Homo sapiens: one gene and its partners. The protein of the gene in region 2 interacts with the protein of the main gene of each other region in a pairwise test. Each region holds a gene or a part of one and is shown on either strand. Other genes may lie near its edges. The genes, in order: FYN, HMOX2, NUP54, SGPL1, MRM1, DHX36 and ASGR2.

The links.
Region 1: the proteins of HMOX2 (region 2) and FYN interact in binary tests that used the Homo sapiens proteins (3 or more experiments, as listed by UniProt).
Region 3: the proteins of HMOX2 (region 2) and NUP54 interact in binary tests that used the Homo sapiens proteins (3 or more experiments, as listed by UniProt).
Region 4: the proteins of HMOX2 (region 2) and SGPL1 interact in binary tests that used the Homo sapiens proteins (3 or more experiments, as listed by UniProt).
Region 5: the proteins of HMOX2 (region 2) and MRM1 interact in binary tests that used the Homo sapiens proteins (3 or more experiments, as listed by UniProt).
Region 6: the proteins of HMOX2 (region 2) and DHX36 interact in binary tests that used the Homo sapiens proteins (3 or more experiments, as listed by UniProt).
Region 7: the proteins of HMOX2 (region 2) and ASGR2 interact in binary tests that used the Homo sapiens proteins (3 or more experiments, as listed by UniProt).

Annotation. Positions count from the first base shown.
Region 1 is NC_000006.12:111,698,350-111,702,723, forward strand, and holds part of FYN (tyrosine-protein kinase Fyn), read right to left. Parts: intron 1,920-4,374; coding exon 1,755-1,919; intron 1,322-1,754; coding exon of another isoform or gene 1,166-1,321; intron 1-1,165. UniProt on the Homo sapiens protein: Non-receptor tyrosine-protein kinase that plays a role in many biological processes including regulation of cell growth and survival, cell adhesion, integrin-mediated signaling, cytoskeletal remodeling, cell motility, immune response and axon guidance.
Region 2 is NC_000016.10:4,482,328-4,486,701, forward strand, and holds part of HMOX2 (heme oxygenase 2), read left to right. Parts: intron 1-1,309; exon of another isoform or gene 1,310-1,427; intron 1,428-4,374.
Region 3 is NC_000004.12:76,134,317-76,138,690, forward strand, and holds part of NUP54 (nucleoporin p54), read right to left. Parts: intron 2,097-4,374; coding exon 1,870-2,096; intron 47-1,869; coding exon 1-46. UniProt on the Homo sapiens protein: Component of the nuclear pore complex, a complex required for the trafficking across the nuclear membrane.
Region 4 is NC_000010.11:70,856,863-70,861,236, forward strand, and holds part of SGPL1 (sphingosine-1-phosphate lyase 1), read left to right. Parts: intron 1-751; coding exon 752-828; intron 829-2,508; coding exon 2,509-2,637; intron 2,638-4,374. UniProt on the Homo sapiens protein: Cleaves phosphorylated sphingoid bases (PSBs), such as sphingosine-1-phosphate, into fatty aldehydes and phosphoethanolamine. Elevates stress-induced ceramide production and apoptosis.
Region 5 is NC_000017.11:36,604,190-36,607,504, forward strand, and holds part of MRM1 (rRNA methyltransferase 1, mitochondrial precursor), read left to right. Parts: intron 1-3,315. UniProt on the Homo sapiens protein: S-adenosyl-L-methionine-dependent 2'-O-ribose methyltransferase that catalyzes the formation of 2'-O-methylguanosine at position 1145 (Gm1145) in the 16S mitochondrial large subunit ribosomal RNA (mtLSU rRNA), a universally conserved modification in the peptidyl transferase domain of the mtLSU rRNA.
Region 6 is NC_000003.12:154,275,988-154,279,487, forward strand, and holds part of DHX36 (ATP-dependent DNA/RNA helicase DHX36), read right to left. Parts: intron 1,732-3,500; coding exon 1,611-1,731; intron 913-1,610; coding exon 760-912; intron 370-759; coding exon 184-369; 3' UTR 1-183.
Region 7 is NC_000017.11:7,107,942-7,112,315, reverse strand, and holds part of ASGR2 (asialoglycoprotein receptor 2), read left to right. Parts: intron 1-3,427; coding exon 3,428-3,544; coding exon of another isoform or gene 3,545-3,580; intron 3,581-3,758; coding exon 3,759-3,854; intron 3,855-4,374. UniProt on the Homo sapiens protein: Mediates the endocytosis of plasma glycoproteins to which the terminal sialic acid residue on their complex carbohydrate moieties has been removed. The receptor recognizes terminal galactose and N-acetylgalactosamine units.

The DNA of each region.
Region 1 (4,374 bases), on a different chromosome or scaffold from region 2:
CTCAAACTCCTGACCTCAGGTGATCTGCCTGCCTTGGCCTCCCAAAGTGCTGGGATTACAGGTGTGAGCCACTGTGCCCGGCCACCTGTATTAACTCTTTTAATGCAGACCACACCTAAAGATCTATACCCACACGTAGCAAAGGGTACTGATCGATATTGTTTTTAATGAGTTCTGAGGAAGGAAGATAGAGGATTCCATAAGTATTAATATTGTTTTACTGAAACATGTTTTTGAGTGGGGCCTAAACCCATGAATTGTTTCTAAGCAAAGCTGTAACTGACCCAAAAGGGCTATAAAAGAAATTACAAAGGCCCAGTGCAGCCAGCCTTATCAATGACAATCAAATAAAGAGAAGTATGTATCTCTACTGAATATCTACTATCTGCAAGGGACTTTAAACATATTAACCCATGTAATCCTAAAAATAATCCTTTAAATAAGTATCATTCCAGCCGGGCGTGGTGGCTCACGCCTGTAATCCCAGCACTTTGGGAGGATGAAGCTGGCAGACCACCAGGTCAGGAGATCGAGACCATTCTGGCCAACATGGTGAAACTCCGTCTCTACTAAAAATACAAAAATTAGCTGGGCGTGGTGGCAGGCACCTGTAATCCCAGCTACTCGGGAGGCTGAGGCAGGAGAATCACTCGAACCTGGGAGGTGGAGGTTGCAGTGAGCCAATATCGCGCCATTGCACTCCAGCCTAGTGATAGAGCAAGACTCCGTCTCAACAACAACAAAAAGGTATCATTCCAATTTTACAGATGAAAAAACTGAGGCTTAAAGGAGTTAAATATGCCCCTTGTTCGTGGTTAATTAGCTAGTAAGGATTCAAACCCAGGCCCATTGAGCAAAACGTCCATGGTCTTTCTTATGGCTGCCCATATACAGTATCTTACCTTCCCATTTCTTAGGAAGAGGAAACACCAGATTCATAGTGTACTGGTTTCCTGTTCTGCGGGTGCCTTAATTAACCACATGAAGTAGGACAGATGAGCACAGCAAGGTATCAGCATATTCTGAAAATCTGGATGGCCTGTGCCCGTCTAGTTATCCAGGTTAAGTGTCTTTGTCCCAACGGCTGTGTGTGCATTTTTGTTCAAAACCATCCTTTTAATCGGCTTTGAGATGCAGCCAAAACAAAATGTGCCCTCTGCCTTACCAAGCCACACTTCAGCGAAACACCCCTGACCCAGCTTCTTCTCCAGACACAACGAACGACGTGCAACTTCCCAAGCATCTTTAGCCAATCCAGAAGTTTGTGGGGTACAACTCGATGCAATCACAGTTAAGTTAAAACACAAACCATCAGCTTTCTCTACAGGAAAGGGAATTAATAAAGAAAACACAGTCCTTATAATCCATAATTATGCATGCACTAGGAAAGATGGAAGGTGACTTGCCCGTTAGGATGACACTCAACAAATATTTGCTTTTGGAAATGAAGAGCAAGATATTTTATGGCAGCTGGAACATTCCTTGGACCATTTGCTGGTTTATGAATTGAGAGTCATGTAATAGTACAACTTGAGCCATTTGCCAATTTTGCCCACTTACTATCTTTTTTTTTTTTTTTTTTTTTTTTTAGGAATTCCAGAATGTTAAAACCAAAACTGAAATTATTATTCCCCACTATTAGTAATTCAAACTTTCTTCCCGGTCACGCAGTCTTTATTTTCACCTTCCATCTTTGGTGTTTGGGATCTTCCAAACGGGGAAGCTAATAAGAGAGTAATTGAGTCTCAGCATACCCATCCATACTTCCCCAAACTGCCCATTTCCCAGTCTCTTGATCAACTGCAGGGATTCTCGAGGGATTTCCCAGACATCTTTGGTTTTGACAGACAGATCGGTAAGCCTTGGCATCCCTTTGTGACAGGGAACTACTAGGCGGCAGCAGAGACCTGCAGCTCTCTCTGATGGAGCAGGGCAGGGGCAGGAGAGGGAGAGAAGAGCAGAACACATGTAATGACAACACTCATAAGTGTAAACCCACACTAGCGGCGCACAGTGCTCCTCAAACAGTGCTACTACACCAGCAGACGACCACACACATCGTGGAACACTAGCAGCACACAGCGCTCCTTAAACAGCGCTACACCAGCAGACGACCACACACACGGTGGAAGATCAGACGCCACACACGGAAACATTTTCATTGGAGGTAGAAGAGAGGACGTTTTAAATTTAGACTACTCCATGAGCCCAGGTACGATACAGTCTATACATAGACATACACGCAGACTGCTTTGGTTTCTGTACTCACTGAGGAAGAAAAACGTTTTCAGCTCAACGTGCTAATAACATGTTTTTGGGAATGCTGAAAATATCCTTACTAATTTCAAACAGTGGTTTTGGATTAAAGAATGTCAATATGACTGTTCTTCCCCACCTTTAGTATCTAGATTACCCAGGGGATTAGGGATCTCTCTATATGACTATACTTAAAATTATAACTTTAGTGGAGGATCCTTCTATAGGACATTAAACTGTTATAAACTAGTAAGGTTGAAGATTATAACTGGTGGGGAAAAAAAGAAGTAACTTTTTTTAGTGATTTCTTCGCTTTCTAACTGATTCCATTCCACCATGTCAGATACTCCTGGGCTGCTTCTTGGATATTTTCCATTAAAAAAAAAAAAACAACTTTTTAACAGTCTTCGACGTATAATTTAGGTGTCTGGTTTGAAAGGAGAAAGAATGGAAACTAAAATTCACAGAAATTCAAGATGTGAAAGAATGTATTCTTTATAAAAAAAAGAAGAAAGGAAAAAGTAGTTAACACTCGGAGGTTTTTATTCTTTCTTTGTCTTCTTTCCTTCTTTCTTTCTCTTCTTTTTTAAAAAGAATATAACCTTTTAGAATCTGGCAGTGCTAAGGGGAACTTAAATGCCAAGTAAAAATCAGTCAGGCGAAAAAAGGTAACAAAGAATAAGAAATCAGGGAGTGACAAAAGCTGACAGAGCCTGCCTTGTGAGGTGGACAGACCTCCCGCTCCCTCCTGGCAGCCCCCGGACCCAGGGAAAGCAGATGTGCTGCTGGGCTGTAACTTGCTTTTTACTCCTTTCTTTTTGATGGAATCAGGCTCTGAGATGTTTAGGTAGGAAATTATTTATGTGTCAGCATTTCAAAGGCATTTTATTGTGTGAGAGAGAAAGAGGGAAGAGGGAAAGCCAATATAAAAACAAGTCTAACGTGAGATGGATTTTTTTTCCCCGAGATTAAAAAAAGTGTCTATTGTTCATATCCCCTCTTTCCTTCCAGCTTTACAATGTTATTAAGGTGCCCTTTCGAACACAGTATTTTCAAATGATCCAAACCCTGGGGATCCTGCTGATGTTTGGCTGTAATGAAATATATTTCAGCATTTGAAAAATCCTTACAACATGCAGGCATTTTGAGTATATCACTTAAGCTCAGGGAGATATTTTGTTCCATTTCTCCCAAATGTTTCATTAGAATCCACATAAACCGAGTTAGCCAATGCCATAATCAACTAGTACTGCAAGTGCTGTTAATATTTTCTATTGTTCATTAGTGCAAGGGATCAACAGACATTTCTTATTGTCATTTTCGAAAGATTGCTTTTTCATGCCAAAAATTATACATACATATTTCAATGATTGTGCACAGAGCAATAGTAGAGGTAAATCATATACTATTTTTGAGTCTTGCCTTTGTCCTGGAGAACAATAGAAAATGGAGAAATGGGTCACACAAAAAAATATCTCTAGGCTTAATAGGATATAGACATGTGTCTATACATGTGCACCTATATCTATAGGCACATGTGAACATGTATTATATAGTGGCATATAATACTTGCTAATCTAGGAAAGAAAGCAATCATTTTAACAATTGCACATAAAACCAGTCTTTGATAAAATGTATAAACTGCATATCTAATAATTATATGTTTTCAGAAAGAACAAAATAATGGTGATATCTGGGTGTTAGGACAGAAACTGATGTACATTATAAAAGTTTAATTTAACACAATAGACATAATAGATCTAAGAGCTGTGGGTTGTGTAAGTCTAAGCCTAGTTAGGAAACAGCAGTATTGGTGGGGAACATGATAAATGGCTTGCATGAGAATGAAATGTACGTGCAGCTATTCCTGCAACAGTGCTGAGGGTAAAGTGATAGTGGAAACACAATATTCCTTGTAGGAGTCCCCATGTAAGCGCCCTCCGAGAGACTGCTTTCTCACATGCAACGCGGGGAATGGGAAAAGACAACTTGAAGATGAAAAAACAAACAACTTTTAAAATTTAACCTATTGCTTTCTACTTGGGAAACAAAAATATTATAGAATCTTCGGACAAACATGTGGAACTAATAATAACAACAGTAGAACAATAGCAATAG
Region 2 (4,374 bases):
GGTTATTTGAGAAAGGCAAAAAAACCCAAAGTCTTTTTTCTACTCTGTTCCCACAGTCACTCAACACAACACTTCTGATACCAGATATATGGGAGTTGTTTCCCCATACACCAAGCAATTCTCTAGTAGACACACCGGTGCGGTGTCCTCTAAGTCAGTTAAATTCTGATACTCTATCTGGAGATAGCGTCAGATCCCACCAATTGAGGGCTCAGTCCCACAAAACTGTCCCAACTTGAGGCACTAGTCACAAGTAGTAAATTGTCACCTATACTTCTGACCTACTAGCTATAAATCGAAAGTTCTGACAATCCCTCCTCGAGTTTGATTAATCTGCTAGAGTGGGTCACAGAACTCAGGAAAACACTTTACTTACATTTACCAATTTACTCTAAAGGATATTAAGAAGGATACAGATGGCTGGGCGTGCTGGTTCATGCCTGTAATCCCAGCACTTTGGGAGGCCAAGGAGGGCAGATCACCTGAGGTCAGGAGTTTGAGACCAGCCTGACCAATGTGGTGAAACCCCATTTCTAGTAAAAATACAAAAAAATTAGCCGGGTGTGGTCGTGCATGCCTGTAGTCCCAGCCACTAGGGAGGCTGAGGCAGGAAAATCGCTTGGACCCTGGGGGCAGATGTTGCAGTGAAATGAGATCACGCCACCGCACTCCATCCAGCCTGGGCGACAGACTGGAAGAAAAAAAAAGGATACAGATGAATAGCCAGATGGAAGAGATGTATAGGGTGAGGCATGTAGGAAGAGGCATGAAGCTTCTACGCCCTCTCTGGAACTTTCGTGTATTCAGCTATCCTGAAGCTAATGCAAACCCTGGTGTGTGTGTGTGTGTGTGTGTGTGTGTGTGTGTGTGTGTGTGTGTGTGTGTGTGTGTGTGTGTTTATGGAGGCTTCATTACAAAGGCATAATTGAATACGTTATTGGCCACTGGTGATCAACTCAACCTTTAGACCTTCTCCCGTCCCCTGAGGTTAAGGGGGTAGGGCTGAAAGTTCCCACCCTCTAATCACATGGTTGGTTCCCCAGGCAATCAGCCCCCATCTAGGAGCCCACCAAGAGTTACTTACTTACAACAAAAGATGCTCCTATTACCCAGGAAATTCCAAGGGATTTAGGAAATTACAAAAGTTTTAGGAGCTCTGTGTCAGGAACTGAGGTTAAAGACCAATATCAGAATGAAGGATTCTCCTAGTGCCCCCATCTACAAAGGTTTTAGGAGCTCTGTGCCAGGAACCTAGGGTGCAGATCAAATATATCTATAAATCTTTTTGTTTGTTTGTGTTTTGAGACAGAGTCTTGCTGCGACACCCAGGCTGGAGTGCAATGGCGCTATCTCGGCTCACTGCAACCTCCGCTTCCCGGATTCAAGCGATTCTCCTGCCTCAGCCTCCCGAGTAGGTGGGACTACAGGTGTGCGCCACTATACCTGGTTAATTTTTGTATTTTTAGTAGAGACGGGGTTTCACCATATTAACCAGGCTGGTCTTGAACTCCTGACCTCAAGTGATCTGCCCACCTCAGCCTCCTGAAGTGCTGGGATTACAGGCATGAGCCGCTGCATCCAGCCTCAAATTTATCTCTGTATCTTCTTCTAAATTACAGTATCACACCCGTGCATATGCCCAAAAATTTTTTTTTTTTTTTTTTTGAGACGGAGTCTTGCTCTGTCGCCCAGGCTGGAGTGCAGTGGTGCGATCTCGGCTCACTGCAGGCTCCGCCTCCCAGGTTCACGCCATTCTCCTGCCTCAGCCTCCCGAGTAGCTGGGACTACAGGCTCCCGCCACCATGCCCGGCTAATTTTTTGTATTTTTAGTAGAGACGGGGTTTCACCGTGTTAGCCAAGATGGTCTCAATCTCCTGACCTCATGATCCACCCACCTTGGCCTCCCAAAGTGCTGGGATTACAGGCGTGAGCCACTGCACCCGGCCTCATATGCCCAAATTTTAAAGGAGGCACCACATTCAAGTCCAAATGCCTAAAGGTAGAAGGATCAAGAAACAGTAGTATGAGGCCATTTGAGAAGTATATATAGTTATCCCTCAGTATCTGTGGAGATTAGTTCCAGGACCCCTCAAGGGTACCAAGATCCAGGATGCTCAAGTTTCTTTTCTTTTCTTTTTTTTTTTTTTTTTTGAGACGGAGTCTTGCACTGTCACCCAGGCTGGAGTGCAGTGGTACGATTTCGGCTCACTGCAATCTCCACCTCCCGGGTTCAAATGATTCTCCTGCCTCAGCCTCCCGAGTAGCTGGGATTACAGGTGTGCACCACCACGCCTGGCTGATTTTTGTATTTTTAGTAGAGGTGAGGTTTCACCATATTGGCCAGGCTGGTCTCGAACTCCTGACTTCAGGTGAGCCGCCTGCCGCGGGCTCCCAAAGTGCTGGTATTACAGGCATGAGCCACTGTGCCCAGCTTAAGTTTCTTATATAAAATGGTGTATAGAATTTGCATATAACCTATGCATATCTTCTGTATTCTTTAAATCATCTGTATTTATAATACCCAATACAGTGCTATGTAAATAGTTGTTATACTGTATCGTTTAGGTAATCATGACAAGAAAAAAAATCTGTACATGTGTAGTACATATGTAGCCATCTGTTGTTTTTTTTTTCCCTGAAGATTGATTGGTTGATTGAGACGGCATCTCACTCTGTCACCGAGGCTGGAGTGCAGTGGCGCAGTCTTGGCTCACTGCAACCTCCACCTCCTGGGTTCAAGCGATTCTCTTGCCTTAGCCTCCCGAGTAGCTGGGATTACAGGTGCCTGCCACAACCCCCGGCTAATTTTTATATTTTTAGCAGATTCCGGGTTTCACCATGTTGGCCAGGCTGATCTCGAACTCCTGACCTTAAGTGATTCACCCACCTCCACGTCCCAAAGTGCTATGATTACAGGGGTGAGCCACCATGTCAGGCCTTTTTCTGAATATTTTTAATCTGAGGTTGGTTGAATCCACTGATGCAGAGCCCATGGATATGGAGGGCTGACTGTACTGTATTGAGCTTCTAAGGTATGCAGAGTATTGGCACTGAGGGGATGTGCAAATACAACAACAAACCAAGCATAGTCTTTGTTTACTAGGAGCTGGTAGTAACTGTGGGAAGACACAAAACAGTAAAATCACTTTGTAAGGTTTATGAGAGTTTTGAGAGGCCAGGGAAGTTAAAGAGTGGAGAAATGGAGAAAATGGGAGAACTTGTACTGAACCCATTAGGACAGAGGAGGAAGGGAAGAGAAGGAAGGAGGCCAAAGAAAGAAGAAACCCTTCTTAGAGCACTCAGGGTCTTACTGAAAACTTTACCCATAAAAAGAGAATGTCACTGATAGACTCCTTTTAGAACAGGGATTGATTTTTTTGTTTTTGTTTTTGTTTTTATTTTTGTTTTTGTTTTTGAGAGAAGTCTCGCTCTTGTCCCCCAGGCTTGAGTGCAATGGCTTGATCTCGGCTCACTGCAACCTCTGCCTCCCGGGTTCAAACAATTCTCCTACCTCTGCCTCCCAGGTAGCTGGGATTAAGGCACCTGCCACCACGCCCGGCTAATTTTTGCATTTTTAGTAGAGACAAGGTTTCACCATGTTGGCCAGGCTGGTCTCGAACTCCTGACCTCAGGTGATCCACCCACCTCAGCCTCCCAAAGTGCTGGGATTACAGGCTTGAGCCACCATGCCTGGCCACAGGCAACATTTTTAAACCATACGATTGTCCTGGAGAGAGAATCTGAAGCCTTGCTCTGATTCTGAAAGGGATTTGCAACCAAAAAAGGATAAGGATTGTTCTGACAAGTACCCTTTCTTCCCATCTTCAAAAGTACACATCTCTTAATTTGTGTCTTCAAACACAAATTGTGTTCAAAAAAGGAAGTATTTGAGTAGATTAAAGACAGAAACCCTAGGACATTCCTTTGTAAACAAACAGCCTTTTACCAAACACCAACTGTCAAGGGACTTGCCTGAGTACTTGTCCAAAGGACAGCGTGTCCCCATGTGTAGGCAGTGGTCTAATCTGGTTCCTAGGAGAGGACTGCTGAGGCCACAGCAACTTAACTGGCTAGTGTGGGTGAGGCAGAAGTGTTTGAAGCTCAAGGTCTGTCAAGGACAGCTGATTAGAGTATGTCTGTCCCTAATACAGGGTTAGAGCTCAGTACCAATGCTGGGGATGAGGTGAGTTGAAGACACAGAAACTACATGGTTTTTTGGAAGGTCACGAACTTTTCAAGGAACTAGTGGGCAACTGGAAATGATATGTGAAAGAGTAGAGGGAGCTCTGGCCTAGCTGCCAGAAAACTCTGGGCAGGTCAGGTCTGGGAACAGTGGCTAATCCAGGCCCAGCTTCCCACTGTTGATTTGGACAT
Region 3 (4,374 bases), on a different chromosome or scaffold from region 2:
GCCCATCTTCATCTTTATTACTGGGCATGCAACTATAACCTACTGCCTGTGGAATGACAAAATAAACAATATAAAAAATATGTACAGATCTTAAATCAGGTGTTTAATATTAATAGCTTAATATCTGCTAAAATGGGAAAAACAACTTAATGTCTGGTAATTAAGGGAATAATGATTCTTCCCACCATTTTGTGCCCTAGGAGGTCACAAAATTATAAAGAAAAACTATTTTACCCAGGAATAACATTAACCTATAGAGTAAGATTAACATTTCCTCTTTGAGAGAGTAACTAAACAGCTTTCTCCCCTAAAAAATTTTGATATTCATTATTGTTGGTTGTTTCTGAACCATCTGCATGTCATTATAAAAGTGACTGCAAAAATCACCAACTAATTATAATTTATTTCACTATACAGATTCTCAACTTATGATTTTTCCATTTTATAGGGTGTGAAAGCAATACGCATTCATATATACATACATGTAAACCATACATGGAATTCTGATCTTTTAGTTTTTATTATAAAATTATTATTATTATAAGATGGACTTGATGTTAGATTATTCTGCCCAATTGTACACTAATGTAAGTGTTCTGAGCATGTTTAAAGTAGGCTAGGCTAGGCTATGATGCTTGGTAGGTTAGGTGTATTAAATGCATTTCTGAATTACAATATTTTCAATTATGATGGGTTTATTGGGATGTAACCCATAATAAGTTGAGGAGTATCTGTATATCTGATTCATGGAATCTTAAACTAAGTTTTAAATATATAAAGAAGTAATTTACAAATAAATACTTTTAAATCACAGTAATGACAGTCAACTTACAAATACTATAAAGAATGTCTGTATCACTTTATTGGTTTATATAATACAAAACTTTATGAAACAGGGTTGTTGTTTTTTTACATATTAATATGACCAATTATACTTTTCTAAATAATTGCTCTTTTAGATAGAAGCCTTTTATCCCTTTTCACCACTCACCTGCAACTTTTAAAAAAGAATTTAAATTAACTCAAGTGTACATTATGCATTTTACCATGTTATACACCAACTTTATTGTTATATTCAACTTATGTCTATTATTGAATACCTCTTAGCGACTAAATACATGTATCAAAATTTCAACTATATGCACTCAATATACTTTTTGTTAGTGATGACACAAAGAGATGTTCTGTAATAAGACAGGCTGACCACTTTATTCAAGGATCTGATCCTCAGCCTTACAGCTCCAAACACAGGGTTATGTACATATTGATTAGGTTTAAGAGACCAACGTAGGCCAATATAACTCCTAAGAGGCTGAGGTATAAACTGGATTGCAATACGTAATTTGTTATGGAAAATGCATTACCAAATGGACCTAAATACTCTCACTGGCTGATAAAGAGATTTTCTGAAGAGACAAATGAGAAGGTTGTTTGGTAGGCAGGGAATAAGAACACAGAAAATGGGCAATATTGTTTTAATAGCTTTGGGGTTATACATGCCAAGGGGAATTTCTGTCTGCTGGTTAGGGTATACTCTCCTGGCCAATGTTAAATGAATACCACTAAATTGTAGTTTGGTGTCTCCCCTTTACAGGTGCCAGGCAAACCATTCTCCTGTTTACATTTTTTTTCTTCAGTTATAAATCACATTCCAGTCACACCTTCCTTCATTCATATTCTGGTCACCTTCAACCACACATATGTATGAAATCACTTCAATTTTATAATTTCTATATTTTCAAAATAAAAGTATAATCATACCATGTTCAAGGAGTAAAGATCCAAGCAATTGTTATCTTGATATTAATCTAAATATATTTTCTGTTATACAAAATCTTCAACTGAAGATAAAAATAGTATTAATAATACCTTAAATCGGCAAAAGGGATTTTCTTGTGTGAATTCCACTGGCGGAATATTATTGTTGAAATACCCTTTTCCTGTTCCCCAAAAGGCCTGCAGTTGATTCCATTTTGCCAAAATAGCATCTCTCTCATCTCCCAACAGCGTTGGAGCAGAAAGAGCACTCGCAGTATTTATCAGCTGGTTGGACTGGGTAGGAGCTTGTGTAGGCTGACTGAAGAGACCACCTAATGCTAAAAATGTACCCAAAATTAGTATTTAAAAACAAAACAAAACAAAACTTAATCCAGATCCTAGGCGTGGTAGGCAAAATAATGGCCCCCTCCAAGATGCCCATATCCTAATCTACAGAACCTATAAATATGTTATCTTACATAGCAAAAGGGCCTTTGTAGATGTGATTAAATTAAGCATGCTGAGATAGAGGGTTATCCTGGATTATCAGGAGGGACTCAACGTAATCATAAGATCCTCAAAAGTGGAAGAGTGCGCTCAGAGTCAAACAGATCTGAAGATGCTATGCTGTTGGCATATGGCAAGATGGAAGAGCCGCGAGCCAAGAAATGCAGGAAGACTCTAAAAACTGGAAAATGCAAGAGAATGGATTCTCCCTTAGTGCCTCTAGAAGTAACGCAGTACTGCCAGGACCTTCATTTTAGCACAGTGAAACCCACTTCTGGACTTCTAATCTCCAGAAACTATAAAATAATAAAATTTTATTGTCTTAAGCCACTAAGTTTGTGGTAATTTGGTATGGCAGCAATAGGAAACTAACACACTAGGCCAAACCTTATAACGTTAAATTTGTTTTTCTAATAATATTTTTTTGAGACAGGGTCTTACTTTGTTGCCTAGACTGGAGTGCAGTGGCAAGATCATGGCTCACTGCAGCCTCAACCTTCTGGGCTCAAGCAATACCCCTGCTTCATCATCCTGAGTCGCTGGGACTACAGGAGTGCACCAATGTGCACCTGGTTAATTTTTTAAAATTATTTTTTGTAGAGACAGGGTCTTACTATGTTTCCCATGCTGGTCTCAAAACTTCTGAGCTCAAGCGACTCTCCTGCCTCAGCTTCCCAAAGTGCTGGGATTATAGGCATGAGCAACTGTGCCCAGCCCTAATGATGTTATCCAAATTAATTCCATTACCAGAACACAGATTGGGTCCACAATATTAAACCTACACATGAAAGAATGGAGGGAGGGAGGAAGGGATGCATGTGGATAAAAAAAAGTTTGTAAAGATGTAGGATTTTTTAAAATAACCTTTATTGCTGTTATATTTATATAATAAATACAAATTGGGGGATACAAAGTCTAAAAATCATTGTTATATCAAATACCAGCTTACTAAACATTTTCCTTTCTCTCATTATTAAAAAATATATATAGTAATAACAAATGGATTAACCATCAGTATTCTAGGCTAAAACTTTAGATGGCTGTGTAACTTTGGGCAAATCAACCTCTCTGGGATACCAATTTCTCTAATGGAAAGAAGGGCCAAGTTCTTAGGGCAGATAAATATGCCCCAAAGTGTGAGATAAGTATGTCATCTTTCAACAAAGCGAGGAGCAAGTCTAAGGCTCAGAGCTTAAGGCAAAGTTATCTACCTAGAATTTATTTACACTATATTTTCTTTGTACTTAATTTCAATTACCTTTTCCTTAGAGCAAATGATACTAATTTTCCACTTATAGCAGCAATAAATTTTACTTTAAAATAACTGTATTTCGTGTTTCAAAGTAAACTGATTTAAAGAAAATTCTTAAATAGTAATACAAATGGTATGTAGATGAGGAGAAAACGTGAATACCAAAATGACCTGAGTTTTAAAACACTGTATTAGATATTGTTTAAGTTCTCTTTCAGCTCTAAACATTGAAAGTACCACAAGGTCCATGGAGCTTCTACAGAGCTAGAGAGAGGCTCTTTTACTCTCCAGAAAAGTATTAATTCCCAAATTAGTATATATAAACATTGGCAAGAACTGGACTAGAACTCAGAACACTTGAATCCTGGTTTATTATAAGGTCGCTTTCTATCCTTGAGCAAGAAATTCCTGGGCTTTATCTTCCTCAACTTTTACATGAGATGAATCAACTGTGATCTCTATACCGAGACATATGCAGTCAGCCTCCCATGCTGTTGATTATTCCTTTGGCCCCCAAAGAAAATCTTCACCTTCTGTTGAATACACATCCTCCTTGAAAGCCCTTCTCCCTTAAATTTCCTGACAACACAGTCTCTCTTGGTTTTTTATAAACACATTCATTCATTCATTCACCATTAATTCATACAACAAATATTTACTGAGTACCTACTAAGTGCTCAGAGCCAAATACTAAAGATACAGTGGTAAACAAGGTAGACAAGGTGCATTAAACAAACTGAACACATCAAACAAATATTAACAATTGTGATAAGTCCTTCAGAGAAGTACAGAGGTTCTGGGAGTACTAAATAAGGGAGCTGATCAAGCCTGAGAGAGGGGTCAAGAGAAGACAGTTC
Region 4 (4,374 bases), on a different chromosome or scaffold from region 2:
TAAAATGAAGAATGTCTCGGGGAGAGAGGAAAGTGGAAAGTCAGATCTTATATTCTACTCAGGAACTTTACTTTTCTTTCCACACTGGGATAAAGGAGGTTTATCCCAATGTTGACTGTGTTCCTGATCTTGAATATGCTACAGCGTGTGCTGCTGGAAGCAGGTAACTAGTTTTATGTGGGTTTCCAGGCTTGGCTTAAGGGAGCCGGCGTCTGAGACCGGGGTGCTCATGGTTTATACCTCATTGTGGTTTGTTTGCTGGTTTCATCTCTGATGATAGTGTGCTGAAATTTCACACTTTTCATTTTGCTTTCTTCTGCCAACTCTGCTCATAATAGTTCTCAAAATTCCTAGGACTGGATAGGAAAGGAGAGAAGAAGGAAGCTATTGCAGAAAAAGGCCACTCCAAAGCCATATAGAGAACAAAAAATAAGTATAGACAAAGGCAAATGTTCCTGCTGTTAGAAGGCAGTTGAGGATGAGGACAACATTATTATCAGATTGCCTTTATTGTAGCTAAATGCTATTAATATCTTTTTCACATTGCTGATAATAATGATTTTTCATCTTTATTTTATTGTGCTAACTCTATTGAACTTTTTTCTTGATTTGCTATAAGAATGCTGTTGGGTTTCCACTCAACATTTTTTTCTTTTGTATCCAGAGGAGTTTCTTCCTGTTTCTTCTTTATCAGAACCTGTCTTCCCAGAGATTCTTGCTTACTGACCAGTGACCTTACCTTTCTCTGCAGACGCCTTCTGGCAAGAGGGGAGAGCCTCTGGAACAGTGTACAGTGGGGAGGAGAAGCTCACTGAGCTCCTTGTGAAGGTGAGTGTCCAGTTCTTGAGGGAAGCCTGTGAGGTCTGTGCCAGTTTACATGACCTCCTTTTTTTCCCTTACTTTTGTAATTAGAAAAATTACTTAAGGAAAGCTTATTGGTACAATAAAACCATAAAAGTTTCTCTTCACCCAAACATAGGCGAATATGTATAATATTATCAAAGACATCTTCAGTCTGTAAAATAGTAAAATGTTATTTATGTTTTCAGTCTTTGCAGATGTCCTGTCTAGAAGGCAGATTACTAGGGAAGGTAGTCCTGTCAGATGAGATTTTTGTGGTGAGACAGATTTTGTTTGATAAGAAGAGATAAGATAGGGAAACTCTTTCATAATTTTCTCAAATCATGTGACCCAAGATGAGCAGTGGTCTCATGTATACTTCAAATAATTCTCATTCTTAGCTTCTTCCATTTCTAATCAAATTTATTTTTATTTTATTTTATTATTTTTACAGACAAAGTCTCACTCTGTCACACAGGCTGGAGTGGAGTGGTGTAATCATGGCTCACTTCAGCCTTGACCTCTTTGGCTCAAGTGATCCTCCCACCTCAGCCTCCTGAGTAGTTGGGACTACAGGCGTGCATCATGACACCCAGCTAATTTTTGTATTTTTTTGTTGGAGATGGGGTCTCACTCTGTTGCCCAGGTTGGTCTTCAACTCCCAGCCTCAAGTGATCCTCCTGCCTTGGCCTCTGAAAGTGTTGAGATTACAGCTGTGAACCACTGCACTCGGCCCTCATATTTATTTTTGAAACTCCACTTCATCATATAAAATTGGGGTTGTACTGATGATCTCTAAGGTCTTTGTGTTTGATTATTATAAATATGAAACTGTCCCTTACTAAATAAATATGGCAGGTTTTGCATAAGTTGGTGTAATGCTCTGATCTTCTGTGCTTAAAATCTTTCAGTAGCTTCCCATTATCTACAGGATGAAACTCAGGTTCTTATGCAGCAGAGAATACAAGTTTCTTCATGAGCCAGCTCCCACTTATTTTTTCTTAACTACTTCTCTTCATTTCCCACATAAACACTAATCCTGCCTTTTCTCTTTACTAAATGTGTCATGCTTTTACGTTGTTTTCCTTCCCTTCCATCATTCCTCTTGTTCCAAATGATGATTCCTACTCATCTCTCAAAGTTCCACTCAGCAGACACCTCTAGATCACTCAGGATGTTAGTTGTTCCCTCTTCAGGGTCCCTTAGCACTCTGTACACACACCTGATATTGCAGTCGATAACAACAGCTGCTTTGTGCCAGACACTCTACTAAGTGCTTCACATGCATTATGTTATTTAATTATTGCTAGAACACTAGAAGATAGCTACCATAACAACTTCTGCGTATGAAGAAACAACCTTAGATTATGTGACCTACACAGCTGAAAGTAATAGGCAAAGCTTAGACTTCCTCCTGGGTCGGTTTGGTGTTATAGTCTGCGCTTTTAACCATATTTATACTTCTTTCCTCATCACATTGTAAAATTATTTATTTACATGTCTGTCTCCTCTGCTATGTTTTGATCTTTTGGTTGAGGAATATATCTTATCTTTTTTTCCAGTTTATATTGTTGTGCCTAATACTTAGAAACTGTTGTTTAGTGCATGATTCTTTGTCCTGTATAGTGTAATAGTTTTGATTTCACATCTGCTTGCATTTTTTTGCAGGCTTATGGAGATTTTGCATGGAGTAACCCCCTGCATCCAGATATCTTCCCAGGACTACGCAAGATAGAGGCAGAAATCGTGAGGATAGCTTGTTCCCTGTTCAATGGGGGACCAGATTCGTGTGGATGTGTAAGTATATGCAAGGGGCATCCAATAGCCTTATTTTTTAGGTTAAAATAGAAGAGTTTTTAATAAATATTAATTATATTTTAAAAAATAAAAAATATTAAAAATATTTTACTACACAAGAAATATTTGATCATTGTAGAAAGGTCATTTTACTACACAAGGAATATTTGATCATTGTAGAAAGATCCTAATTAACTGCAGTTTTAAATGTTACTTGTAATTTTGTAACCTAGACAATGTCAACATTTTGGTATATATTCTTCTAGATATTTTTATTTTCACCTTTTTATTTTGAAAAACTTTGAACCTACATTGAGTTGCTAGGATGGCTTAAAGAACACCTTAGATTCACTAAATGTAAATATGTTGCCATATCTGCTCTCTACACTCTTTCCCTCCCTACCCGCTTCTTCCCTCATCCCCCACCTGCATACCTACCATTCCCCTATTTATCTGTGTATACTTTTGTTGTTCCATCCAGCAGTGTTTTTAGTGTACTTCTGGTTTTACCTGAGCCAAAGTTTAATTTATTATTTTGCTGTAAACTGAACCTCATTTAGTTGCTATTAGGCATAAAGAAAGGGGGAGGACATCATTATATTTAAAGAAACACATGAGGATTCTTTGTTTTACCTGTTCTTTCAAGTAGATGGTTGTTAGTTTTCGTAAACTATGATAGATAAACTTCTGTTTAGATCTGTTGTCTTTAGAAAAAACGAAATCTCAGGTTATGTAGGATAGATAGATTTAACTCAATATGCTGCAATGGTGTCCTAGAGGTGCTAATCCTATCAGATACTCATCATATTTGCAGTCATTATAAAGACTGCAGATTTAATTATTGAAGGGCCCATTCGAAGAGCACCTAATTTAGTTTCTTTTTTTTTTTCCAGGAAGCATTGTTTTTGTTTTGTTTTTCTAATATGTTGGCGCCATGAAAATCATCATGTTCAAATATTAGTAGTAATAAAGGTGATATGCCTGGCATTCATTTTCAAAGCAAAATACTGAAACTGTTAAAAACAGAACCACCCATAATACAGCAGCAGTTTCCCTTAGAGTACTGAGGTGAACAGGGTGACTTTCAGAGGGAAGATGATAATGTACTTACAGTATATTCTCCTATGCCATTAGACTCTTGAAGAACTTGTAAGAGGCCAGAGTGAATAGCCACAGAACAGTTTGGCCTTATCTGGTAAATTTGAAGATACATATATCTTATGACCCAGAAATTCTGCTACTAGGACATACTCTAGAAAAATTAGTACACATATATATCAGGATATATGGACATTAATATTCATAGCAATGTTATTCATGATAGCTAAAAACTGGAAGTAATTCAAATGCCTATCCACAGGACACAGATGAATAAATTGTGGAATGCTGTGTGTGCCTCAATCCATTGTAGCTCTTATTCAGATTGATGTACAAATTGCCTCATCCATCTTTGGCCAGTGGAAACATCATATTGGCTCCTAGGTCCATTTACATGACCCAAGTAATCTTTGAAAGCCTTTTTTCTCTTTCTTTCCTTTTTTTTTTTTTTTTGACGAAATATTCCAGGTTCAGGTTCACTTTGTCCATTTCCTGCTCCAGGCCTTCAATCAGCCATTTATCCAAGGAGCCCTGGTTCATTTAAAACTAGGTAAAATAATTACATAGTTCCAAAATCACATTTATGGAACAAGACAGATTAAAAAAAAAAAGTTAACCAGAATGCAGTCCAGAGAGACA
Region 5 (3,315 bases), on a different chromosome or scaffold from region 2:
CAAACATTCCCCTCTCACGCTCTTGATCTCACACCAGTCAGCTCTTCCTCTCACACTGAATCAAAGGCTTCATCAAGGTCACCAGTGGCCTCCATGTTGCTGCATTCCAGGGTCTGTTCTCAATTCTTTTCTGACTTGACCCATCTGCAGCAGCTGGCACAGTTGACCACTCCTTCCTCCTTGAAACACTATACCTGCTTTCCTTCTGCTTCACCATGTCCTCTCTGAGAGACATTTTTAGTGGTTCTTCCTCAACCCCCTGACTTCCGAGCATTAGCATTTCCCAGATTTTAGTCCTCGGATCTCTTTTGTTGTTGTTGTTAAGAGATGGGGTCAGCTGGGCACAATGGCTCACGCATGTAATCCCAGCACTTTGGGAGGCTGAGGCAGGCAGATCATGAGGTCAGGAGATCAAGACCATCCTGGCTAACACGGTGAAACACCATCTCTACTAAAAATACAAAAAATTAGCTGGGTGTGGTGGTTCGTGCCTGTAGTCCCAGCTACTCGGGAGGCGGAGGTAGGAGAATCGCTTGAACCCGGGAGGTGGAGGTGGTAGTGAGCCGAGATTGTGCCACTGCACTCCAGCCTGAGTGACAGAGTGACGTGTCAAAAAAAAAAAAGAGATGAGGTCTTGGCCGGGAGCGGTTGTTAAGAGATGGGGTCTTGGCCAGGCACGGTGGCTCACGCCTATAATCCTAGAACTTTGGGAGGCTGAGGCAGGTGGATCACCTGAGGTCAGGAGTTCGAGACCAACCTGGCCAAAATGGTGAAACCCTGTCTCTACTAAAAATACAAAAATTACCTGGGCATGGTGGCGGGCACTTGTAATCCCAGCTGCTCGGGAGGCTGAGGCAGAAGAGTTGCTTGAATCCAGGAGGCGGAGGTTGCAGTGAGCCGAGATCACAGCGTTGCACTCCAGCCTGGGCAATAAGAGTGAAACTCTATCTCAAAAAAAAAAAAAAGAGAGAGAGAGAGAGAGAGAGATGGGGTCTTGCTGTGTTGCCCAGCCTGGAGTCCAGTGGCACAATCACAGCTCAGTATAGCCTCCGAATTCCTGGGCTCAAGCCATCCTCCCACCTCAGCCTCCTGAGTAGTTGGAGATACAGGTGCACACCATCTCACCTAATTTTTTTCTTTCTTTTTTCTTTTTCTTTTTTTTTTTGTAGAGATGAGGTCTCACTTTGTTGCCCAGGCTGGTCTCAAACTCCTGGCTTCAAGAAGTCCTCCTGCCTTAGCCTCCCAAAATGCTGGGATTACAGGCGTGAGCCACCTCACCTGGTCCTGGATCTCTTTTCTGTATATGTTCATTTCTTGTTGGTCTCATCTAGTCTCATGGCTTTAAATACTATCTGAATTCAAATTCCCGCCCAAGTGTATACTCCAGCCTGGACCTTGGTTCTGAATTCCAGATTCACTCATCTAGTTGCCTACTGCACAGTTGTTGTTATTGTTGTTGTTGTTTTGCTGTCAGGCGGGCATTTCAAACCTAACATTTCTAAAACTGAGCGCTTGTTCCTTCTGGAGCAACTCCATCCCTTTGGTTGTTTAGGTCAAAAACCTTGGCATCATCCTTAACTAAAGTTATTTCCGTATTATCACCATTTCTGCCTGTTTCCACTGCTACCACTCTGGCCCAAGCAAGTCACCATCATCTGTTGACCGTTATTGCAGAAACTTCCCACCTGGCCTCCTTTCTTCTGCTCTTGGCTCTCAGCACAGCAGGCAGAGTGATTCTGTTGAAGTCATACCATGTTACTTCTCTGCTCAAAACCTTTCAAAGCCTCTGTACCGCTCAGATTCAAAGGCAGAGTCCTTCCAGTAGCCCTGGAGACCATACCTCATGTGGCTCTTGTTCCTTCTTCTGTCTTGACGCCTCTCTTCCCACTGGCCACCTTACTGTTCTCAAACATGCCAGGGAGGCACCTGCCTCTGTGCTTGCTGATCTCTCTGCCTAGAATGTTCTTGCCCCAGATGTCTGCACGGTGCTCCTCCTTCTCCTTCAGGTCTGCACTCAAATGTCACCTCAGTGAGTCCATCCCCACCTGCCCTTCCACAAGGCTGGGATTTTGGTCTGTTTTGTTTTGTTCAGTGCCCTGTCCTCAGTGCCTAGAACAGAGCCCATGCTAGGTGCTTAATAACTATTGACTAATTGACTGGATCAGCAGATAAATGAATGTATGGGCAAGGCTGGGCTCTTCCTTGGCCAGGGCTCTGATGGATAATTTTTTTTTTTTTTTTTGAGATGGGGGTCTCACTCTGTCACCCAAGCAGGAGTGCAGTGGCGCAATCTTAGCTCGCTGCAATGTCTGCCTCCTGGTCTCAAGAGATCCTCGTGTCTCCTGAGTAGCTGGGATTACAGGCTGATTTTTGTATTTTTAGTAGAGACAGAGTTTCACCATGATGCTCAGGCTAGTCTTTTTTTTTTTTTTGAGACAGAGTGGAGTCTCGCTTTGTTGCCCAGGCTGGAGGCAGTGGTGTGCTCTCAGCTCACTGCAACCTCCGCCTCCCGGGTTCAAGCGATTCTCCTCCCTCAGACTCCCAAATAGCTGGGACTACAGGCATGTGCCACCACACCCAGCTAATTTTTTGTGTGTTTTTAGTAGAGACGGAGTTTCACCATGTTAGCCAGGGTGGTCTCAAACTCCTGACCTCAGGTGATCCGCCCGCCTCGGCCTCCCAAAGTGCTGGGATTACAGGCGTGAGCTACTGCGCCTGGTTTTTTGTTTTTTTTTTTAATTTGAGATGGAGTTTCACTCTTGCTGCCCAGGCTGGAGTACAATGGCGCAATCTCGGTTGACTGCAGCCTCTGCCTCCCGAGTTCAAGCGATTCTCCTGCCTCAGCCTCCTGAGTAGCTGGGATTACAGGCATGCACCACCATGCCCGGCTAATTTTGTATTTTTAGTAGAGACGGGGTTTCTCCATGTTGTTCAGACTGGTCTCGAACTCCCAACCTCAGGTGATCCCCCTGCCTTGGCCTCCCAAAGTGCTGGGGATTACAGGCGTGAGCCACCGTGCCTGGGCCAGGCTAGTTTTGAACTCCTGACCTCAGGTAATCTGCCTGCTTCAGCCTCCCAAAGTGCTGGAATTACAGGCTTGAGCCACTGCATACAGCCTCTGATGAAGATTTGATGAATTAGAATAGGAGAGGCAGGCATGGTGGCTGACGCTTGTAATCCTAGCACTCTGGGAGGCCAAGGTGGGAGGATCGCTTGAAGCCAGGAGTTCCAGACCAACCAGGGCAACATGGCAAAACCTCATCTCAAAAAAAAAAATGCAAAAACTAGCCGGGTGGGGTGGCGAGTGCCTGTAGT
Region 6 (3,500 bases), on a different chromosome or scaffold from region 2:
ATATATATATATATCTCTACATATAACATCAAGTCATGCACATTAAGTCTTTACTACCTACTGAAGGCTTCTACCTTACACATGAAAATTGTTCATGTCCCAGGGTTTGGCATCCAGCCAAAATTTAAACAATGATGAAGAATGGCTGTCAAACTGGCTTTTCAGACCACCCCTGAAAAGCTGTCAGCTGTAATATCCATCCTGGAATCGTGGCGGAAAGTTCCTGGGAGTTGCCTTTTCCTGTGTTTTGATCAAGTCTATAATAGCTGACAGTACTGCACAGTCTCTGGATTTAGTGTCATTCCAGTCTACAGGATGAGGACTTTCAATCTTCTCTTGCAGAAGAATATCTAGTTCCTTTCTTAATTCCTAAGGTTGGAAAAATTATACATGTTCAACAAAGGCAGATATATTACCAAATAACATAATAAATGAAACTAATTTACCTGATACAAGGAGTTTCACAAGCGATGGCTCAAAAGCTAAAACATTTAGTGAGCAATCAACTAAAGTGTGGTTATGAGTGAATAACTAAAGTGCAGTTAAAATTCACACTGCAATCACACTGAGCCATTTAGAATGGCTGGTCTGTTACCACCTCAAAACACAATTCAGAAAAACCAGGAATCATTTTTTCAAAATTATTTGCTCTGCTGAAATAGAGCAAGAAATGTTAATCTATTTAACAGTTAGAACAAAACCACATGACCACATGCTGACTTACATGTAGATTTAAGATAATCACATAAAGTCAGTCACCTTAACAAGATGGGCAATTCTTGCTGGAGACTGAAATACAATCCACTCATCTACAGCAATAGTTTCCTGATCGTTATCCTTCTGGATGGAAATGTCACCTCCAAAAAACAAGAGACAGTATGGGGAAACCTCTGTGCAGTCATACAAGTATATCTGTAATGAAAATTAAAGTGAATTAATACATTCAGGAGTCTGAAAAGATTACTATATAAATTCAACAATATTACCAGTATTAATTAATGAGTATCTTCCTTCTAAAATATTAACCTTCTATTGTAATTACAGAGATTTGTAAGAAATACCATTTTAAATGAGCCATCTTCATTATTCAGAGAACATAGGTATTTTAATATTTTTTAGTTTAAACTAAGCACTACTCTGAACAAAATATTTTCTGAGTGACAAAAGCAAAACACTAATGTTGCCGAAGTTATTTTTATCCAGTTTTTTATAAATCATCTCAAATTACTGTTCTAAAGAGAAAAATATAAATAAACAGAATCTCAACATGCTGAACAATACTTATAAGGTATACTGACATGCTAACAAAACTTTCTATACAATGTAAACTCCTGTACACCATAAAATATGCCAATATTTCTTGAAAGCAAGTTCTGAAAGAAAATTATGCAATCAAATAACTGTCCTAACTAATTAAAATACAAAGATCCATCATTACAGACCTGAAAATTAAAAGAATAGGTTATTTGTTAGAGGGAAAAAGTTACTCACGTCACAGGAATAAGACACAACAAAAAAAAAATTTTGTATATAATTGTTAAAACTACACAATCATAAAAATACAATGAGACTGATAATCAGATCCTTAATTATTTTAAATGTTCACTTACACTGCTTGTTCTCATCTTTAGGTGATAGATAAGCCAGTTGTAGTGAAAGTCTGTTTGCTCCACATTAACAGATTTAGGATGAACAGCAACCAGGCCATCGGTTTTTGTGTAAACTTTTACCCTTTAAAAAAAGTTAAAATGCAGTTTGTTAAAAAGAAGTCTTCTAGAGGATTTTCTTTTTTTACACTACTTGAAAAACTGATAGAAGAGCTTGGTAAAAACCAAACAAATCCCGGAATCTAAAAAAATTCCAGAGAATAATTCAGTTTATTTTTGCAAAAAAATATATTTATATTTGAGGACAGAGCATAATTTCCTTAAAAATATATGAAAAAATGCTATCAGTATGAATAATTTAAATCATGTAACTAATCTTCTTCTTGCAGGTATAATTACTCAACATTTTAGAAAAATGGCAGAATATTCTTTTCCTTAATGTTAATGCACACTATACCACTGAAGAATAAATAACAAAAAAGTACCTAAAATAATTAAGTGATTCATACCAAGAGTTTATACATTTTACTATGACAATCATAATACTGATAAACAGCCCTTGATTTACAAAATAACTGTAAAATTATCAACTTAAAAATTTTACAGAGTATGACCCAGATGAATAAAAAATGAAAAGTTAAGAATTCTGTTTAAATTCATGTTGACAGTTCTAATTCAATCTCTCAATTCCTAGGTCATTTTTTTTTTGATAGTCATACACATTTTATCTCAATTTGTAAAAGTCTTTAGTATTATTCAACAGGGAGATGTTTAATAATTTATTTTTAAATAGTTAATGTTAATTACCTGTATTAACTAACAGCATAAAAGCTAATAATCCACTAATCTTTCCTATTTGTTTTTACGAGTGTCTCTTTCGAAGTTTTTTTTTTTTTTTTTGAGACGGAGTCTTGCTCTGTCACCCAGACTGGAGTGCAGTGGCCCAATCTCAGCTCACTGCAGCCTCCGCCTCCCGGGTTCCGGCGATTCTCCTGCCTCAGCCTCCTGGGTAGCTGGGATTACAGGCATGTGCCACCACCATACCCAATTAGTTTTTGTATTCTTAGTAGAGATGGGGTTTCACCACGATGGCCAGGCTGGTCTCAAACTTCTGACCTCAGGTGGTCCGCCTACCTTGGCCTCCCAAAGTGCCAGGATTACAGGTGTGAGCCACCACACCCGGCCACTTCTGAAGTTCTAAGAATTCATAAGACTTGTAATCAAAATCATGAATCATGGTTATGAATTTACAGTTTTAAATACTTAGAATAAAACCAGAAATTATTTTTTCTCACTTCAAGTCAATTTACCAATGCCATCCTGCCACCCTGCATAACTAGAGCAGTAGAACTTCACAAATTTCTTTTTTCTTTTTTTTGAGACAGGGTCTCGTTCTGTCACCCAGGCTGGACTGCAGTAGCATGATCTCTCAACGTGCAGTGGTGTGATCTTGACTCACTGCAACCTCCACCTCCTGGGCTCAAGTAATCTAACAGCCTCAGCCAACCAAAGTGCTAGGATTACAGGTGTGAGCCACTGTGCCTGGCCCAGCAAATTTCTATACAGGACCAGAGAGTAAATATTTTAGGGTCTATATTTGGGGCTCTATAATTTCTGTCCAACTCTGCTAGTGTAGAAGGAAAGCAGAATAGACAACATGAAAACAACATGTTTGTGTTCCAACAAAAAAAGGACAAAAACAAGTTTTTGGCCTATAGGTCAAAATTTGCTGACCCCTAGTCTGGACCAAAACAATGCACCAGTCCAAAGAAAACTACATTTTTTCAGAAAGCCCTCCCAGGATGGCAGAGAGGAAAATAAAATGAATTTCAAAGTGACTCACTGTTAAGCTACCTGTAAAGTTAGGTACACACATACAAAAAAATTTCTGGC
Region 7 (4,374 bases), on a different chromosome or scaffold from region 2:
GGAGCTGACACTGATCAGCTGCTCACCGGGGCCCATCTTCCACTTGTCTCAGCACTTGATTTTTTTCTGCTACCCCCTTTTTCTTTTAAAGATTTCAATTATGCATGTATTAAGGGTCCCACAGCTCACTCATTCTCTTTCCATTTTTTAATTCTTTTTTCTCCCAGTGTTTCATTTTATAGAGTTATTGCTGTTCATTAAGTTAACTAAAATTTTCCCCTTCCCCTCCCCCTCCCCTCCCCTCCTTTCCTTCCCTCGCTTCCCCTCCCCTCTCTCTCTCTCATCTCACTCTGTTGCCCAGGCTGGAATGCAGTAGCTTGTCACAACTCACTGTGGCCTCCACCTCCTGGGCTCAGGCGATCCTTCCACTTCAGCCTCCCAGGTAGCTGGGACTATAGGCATGTGGCACCACACCTGGCTAATTAAAAATTTTTTTTTGTAGAGACGGTTTTGCCATGTAGAGGGGTTTTGCCATGCTGCCCAGACTAGTCTTGAGCTCCTGGGCTCAAGTGATTCCCCCCGTGTCGACCTCCCAAAGTGCTGGGATTACAGATGTGATCCACAGTGCCTGGCCCTAAATTTTTCTTACGCATTTCTCATCTTCCATTATTTCCATCCAGTGTGTTTTTTCTTTTCTTTCTTTTCTTTTTTTTTTTTTTGGAGGCGGAGTCTCGCTCTGTTGCCCAGGCCGGAGTGCAGTGGCGCGATCTTGGCTCACTGCAAGCTCTGCCTCCCGGGTTCATGCCATTCTCCTGCCTCAGCCTCCCGAGTAGCTGGGACTACAGGCGCCTGCCACCACGTCTGGCTAATTTTTTGTATTTTTAGTAGAGATGGGGTTTCACCATGTTAGCCAGGATGGTGTCGATCTCCTGACCTCATGATCTGCCCGCCTTGGCCTCCCACAGTGCTGGGATTCCAGGCGTGAGCCACGGCGCCTGGCCAGTGTGTTTTTTCATTTCAGACATTGTAGTTTTTATCTCTAGAAGTTCACCTGGGGACTCTTAAATATCCTCCACAATTCTACTTAATTTTTTGAACATAATGGGATATGGCTATAATATCTGTTTTACCATCCTTGCCTGCTAATTCTAGCATCCGTGTCAGTTCTGGATCTCTTTTGATATTTATGAACCTCCTCGTTATGCATTGTGTTTTCCCGTTTCATTGCATGCCTTGTAATCTTTGATTGGCTGCCAGACATTGTCAATTTCACCTTGTTGGGTGCTGGATATTTTTGTATTCCTCTAAATGTTCTTGAGCTTTGCTCCGGGATGCAGTTAAGCAACTTAGAGTCAGTTTGATCGTTTGAACTCTTAATTGTTTTGGTCTCCTCGGACTCTCAGCTCCATCTCCTCAACGTGGGGAGTCTCTTGGGCTCTGCCTGGACTTCCCTTTCCTGGCCTGTAACCTGCAGACTCTCTCCAAACAGTAAGCTGGGGTGATCGGAGGGTTCCTGTTGTTTGCTTCTTATCCCTCAGGGATCTTTACTCCTCCTTGCCTGATGTCCAGAGTCTTGAAAGCTGCCATGTTCTATAGTTGTCTGTTTTTGTTTTGATTGTTTCTGGGGAGAGAAGAACTCTTCCCATCTTGGGCAGACCCTGTCTTTTATGTTCAAACTTTTGCCTAAGAAGCACATTACATATTTTAACTCATCTAATTATCCGAGCAATCCAATCGGGTAGCTACGACTGTGATCTCCATTTTACACACGAGAAAATGGAAGCATGGAGAAATTGAATGCTGGTGCATGATCTCAGAGCTACCTGGAGGCACAGCTGGGCTACCCTGTGGGCAGTCTGGTTTCAGGGTGGATATACAGACACGTTGCTGGGCTGACCCAGCATTGGGAGTTGATAAGTCGGACTGGGAAGCAGGACAGGACCCTCTGAGTGGAGGGTGCTGAAGACAGCAGTCAGGGACTCAGCCATGGAGGGCCAGCTTGGTGGGGAACACCGTGGTCATGGAGCGCTTCTGGATGGAGAGGAATGCAAAGGCCTTGGAGGAAGGGGTGGGGGCAGTGAGAGGGAGGGTGGGGCTGTGCTCAGAGCGGGAGTGGGCAGTGGAGGTGTCAGAGGCCTCCCTGGGTCAAATGGGGTCCTGAGTGTGGCTGCAGTGGGGAAGGTGGAAGTCACTGGTGTGAAAAAGATGAAGAGTTATGGACAGTCACTTACAGGGGCAGTGTCTGACTCAGGACAGTGGCAGGAAGTGACCTGGGGAGGAAGATTCTGGGCCCCTGACTGAGCCTCCCCAGGATGTGGTCCTGCTGGGTCGGGGGGTGATAGGAATGAGAAGACAAGGAAGTCCACAGAGTCAGGGTCCAAGGCCTAGAAGGTGTTCTGTTTGCAGGTGGATGCTGCAAAGAGAGGAGCTCAGGGCTGGGACAACTGGAGCTGCTCTGGGTCTGGAGGCAGCAGAGAGGGAGCCCAGCTCTGTGTGCAGGAAGACGTGGGTGTGTGAGTGTACGTGTGTGGGTGTGTCAGGTGTGTGTGTGTGGGAGGGAGTATGAATGTGTGCATTAGCATGCATATGCACATGTGAGAGTGGGTACAGCAGAGCGTGGTCATGAGTGTGTGCAAATGTGTGTTTTTGAGTGAAGTGAGCAATGTGTGAGTGTGTGAGTGTGTGTGAGTTTGTGAGGGCATGTGAATGTGTGTGTCAGTGCTGTCAGGGTGCAGATGGATCAAGGGGCAGGAGAGGTACCTGTGAGATGACCTCGGGCTGAGGGGAGCAAATTTAGTGTGGAACGAGGTTTCTAGGGAAGCGAGGGCAAAGGGCGCTGGGGAGGAGGCCTTGCGTGGTGGGGGATGAGGACAACAGGTGGGACCTGGAGGGTTGTGCTTGGAGAGTGGGCTATGGTGGAATGACCCAGATTTAAGGATCTCAATGGAATTTTGGCAGGGGAGGGACTGTTCCAGTATGGATTTTAGGAAGAACACAGGGCCCAGCTTCTGGAGTCTCCAATCTGAGGGGACAGGAGCCTTAGAAGAGCTGAGACTAAGGCCCGAGGTGATCTGGAGGCCTCTGCCACTGGCTGGATGGGAGGAAAACCATTCACAGATCCCCCTTCTCAGGATGTGTGCCTAGGCAGGGCCGGGTCTGCCCCCCCGCCCCCTGTGCGTCTCCCAGTCCCCCAGCTCCAGGATCCGGGCTTTGCACACAGCTGATGTGAATATCCTGAGTCGTGTGCATGGGTGTGTGTGCACCAGATTAGCTGCGTGTGTATATTTATACATGGTAATATGGGTGCGAGTGTGTAAGAGTGTGTGTGTAATGCTCAAATGCTGGGGTCAAAGCCTATGATGACCCCCCCCCATGGCCCCAACCAATCCCCCCGCCCAGGTTATGCCTCCTCAGGCTTCGGTGCCCTGTCTTTACCCTCCGGCTCCCCACACCCAGGCTGCCGGCTCCTGATGCCCCTCTCCCACAGGGCCACCTCCTGCCCAGCCCCTGGCACAGCGTCTCTGCTCCATGGTCTGCTTCAGTCTGCTTGCCCTGAGCTTCAACATCCTGCTGCTGGTGGTCATCTGTGTGACTGGGTCCCAAAGTGAGGGTCACGGGGGCCAGCAGGGATGGGCAAGGGGTAGGGAAAGAGACATGGGCAGTGGCGGGCAGCGATCGGGGCGATGGGAGGGGAAGGGATGGAGGCGGGGTGGAGCACAAGCTGGGGCAAATGCGGGGACATTGAGGGGCCAGTCACATGGACAGTGATGGGGACACGGCCCCTCTGCCTCATCCTGCCCCCACTACCACCTGACAAGGTGCACAGCTGCAAGCCGAGCTGCGGAGCCTGAAGGAAGCTTTCAGCAACTTCTCCTCGAGCACCCTGACGGAGGTCCAGGCAATCAGCACCCACGGTGAGGGGCTGGACGGCTGGGTTCTCATTTATCCGCACAGGTTTGCTGGGCTCAGTGCCGAGTCTGCAACAGGGCTGTGTGGGGTGCCGTGGGGGTGCAGGCTGGGCAAGGCGTCCAGGGGCCCTGGGGGATGTATAGGAGGGAGGCAGGTGGGGACGGACGAGGTTAGTGCCAGGTGGAGAGGTTGGATCTGCGACACCCGGAGGTGAGGAAGGCACCATGTCTTGGGCCTGTGAGCAAATCGAGTGTGGCAGGCCCATCGGAGGGGCAGGCAGGTAAGGGGTGGCCAGAGAGAGGTGGGGAGGGGCCCGGCCACGCAGGTGAGCCGTGCTGACAGAGCGAGGCTTTATTTTGAGAAAATGGGGACCCATTGAAGGGACTGAAGCAGGAGAGTGGCCTGAGCCACTGTGGCAGTGCAGGGAGCCTGGGTGTGGTCCAGGAAGCCAGGAGGTGGACGCCTGCATCGCCCAGGACGAGGCGCTGGCCCCCGGTCCCCCAGCAGCATGAGGACGGAGGGAGG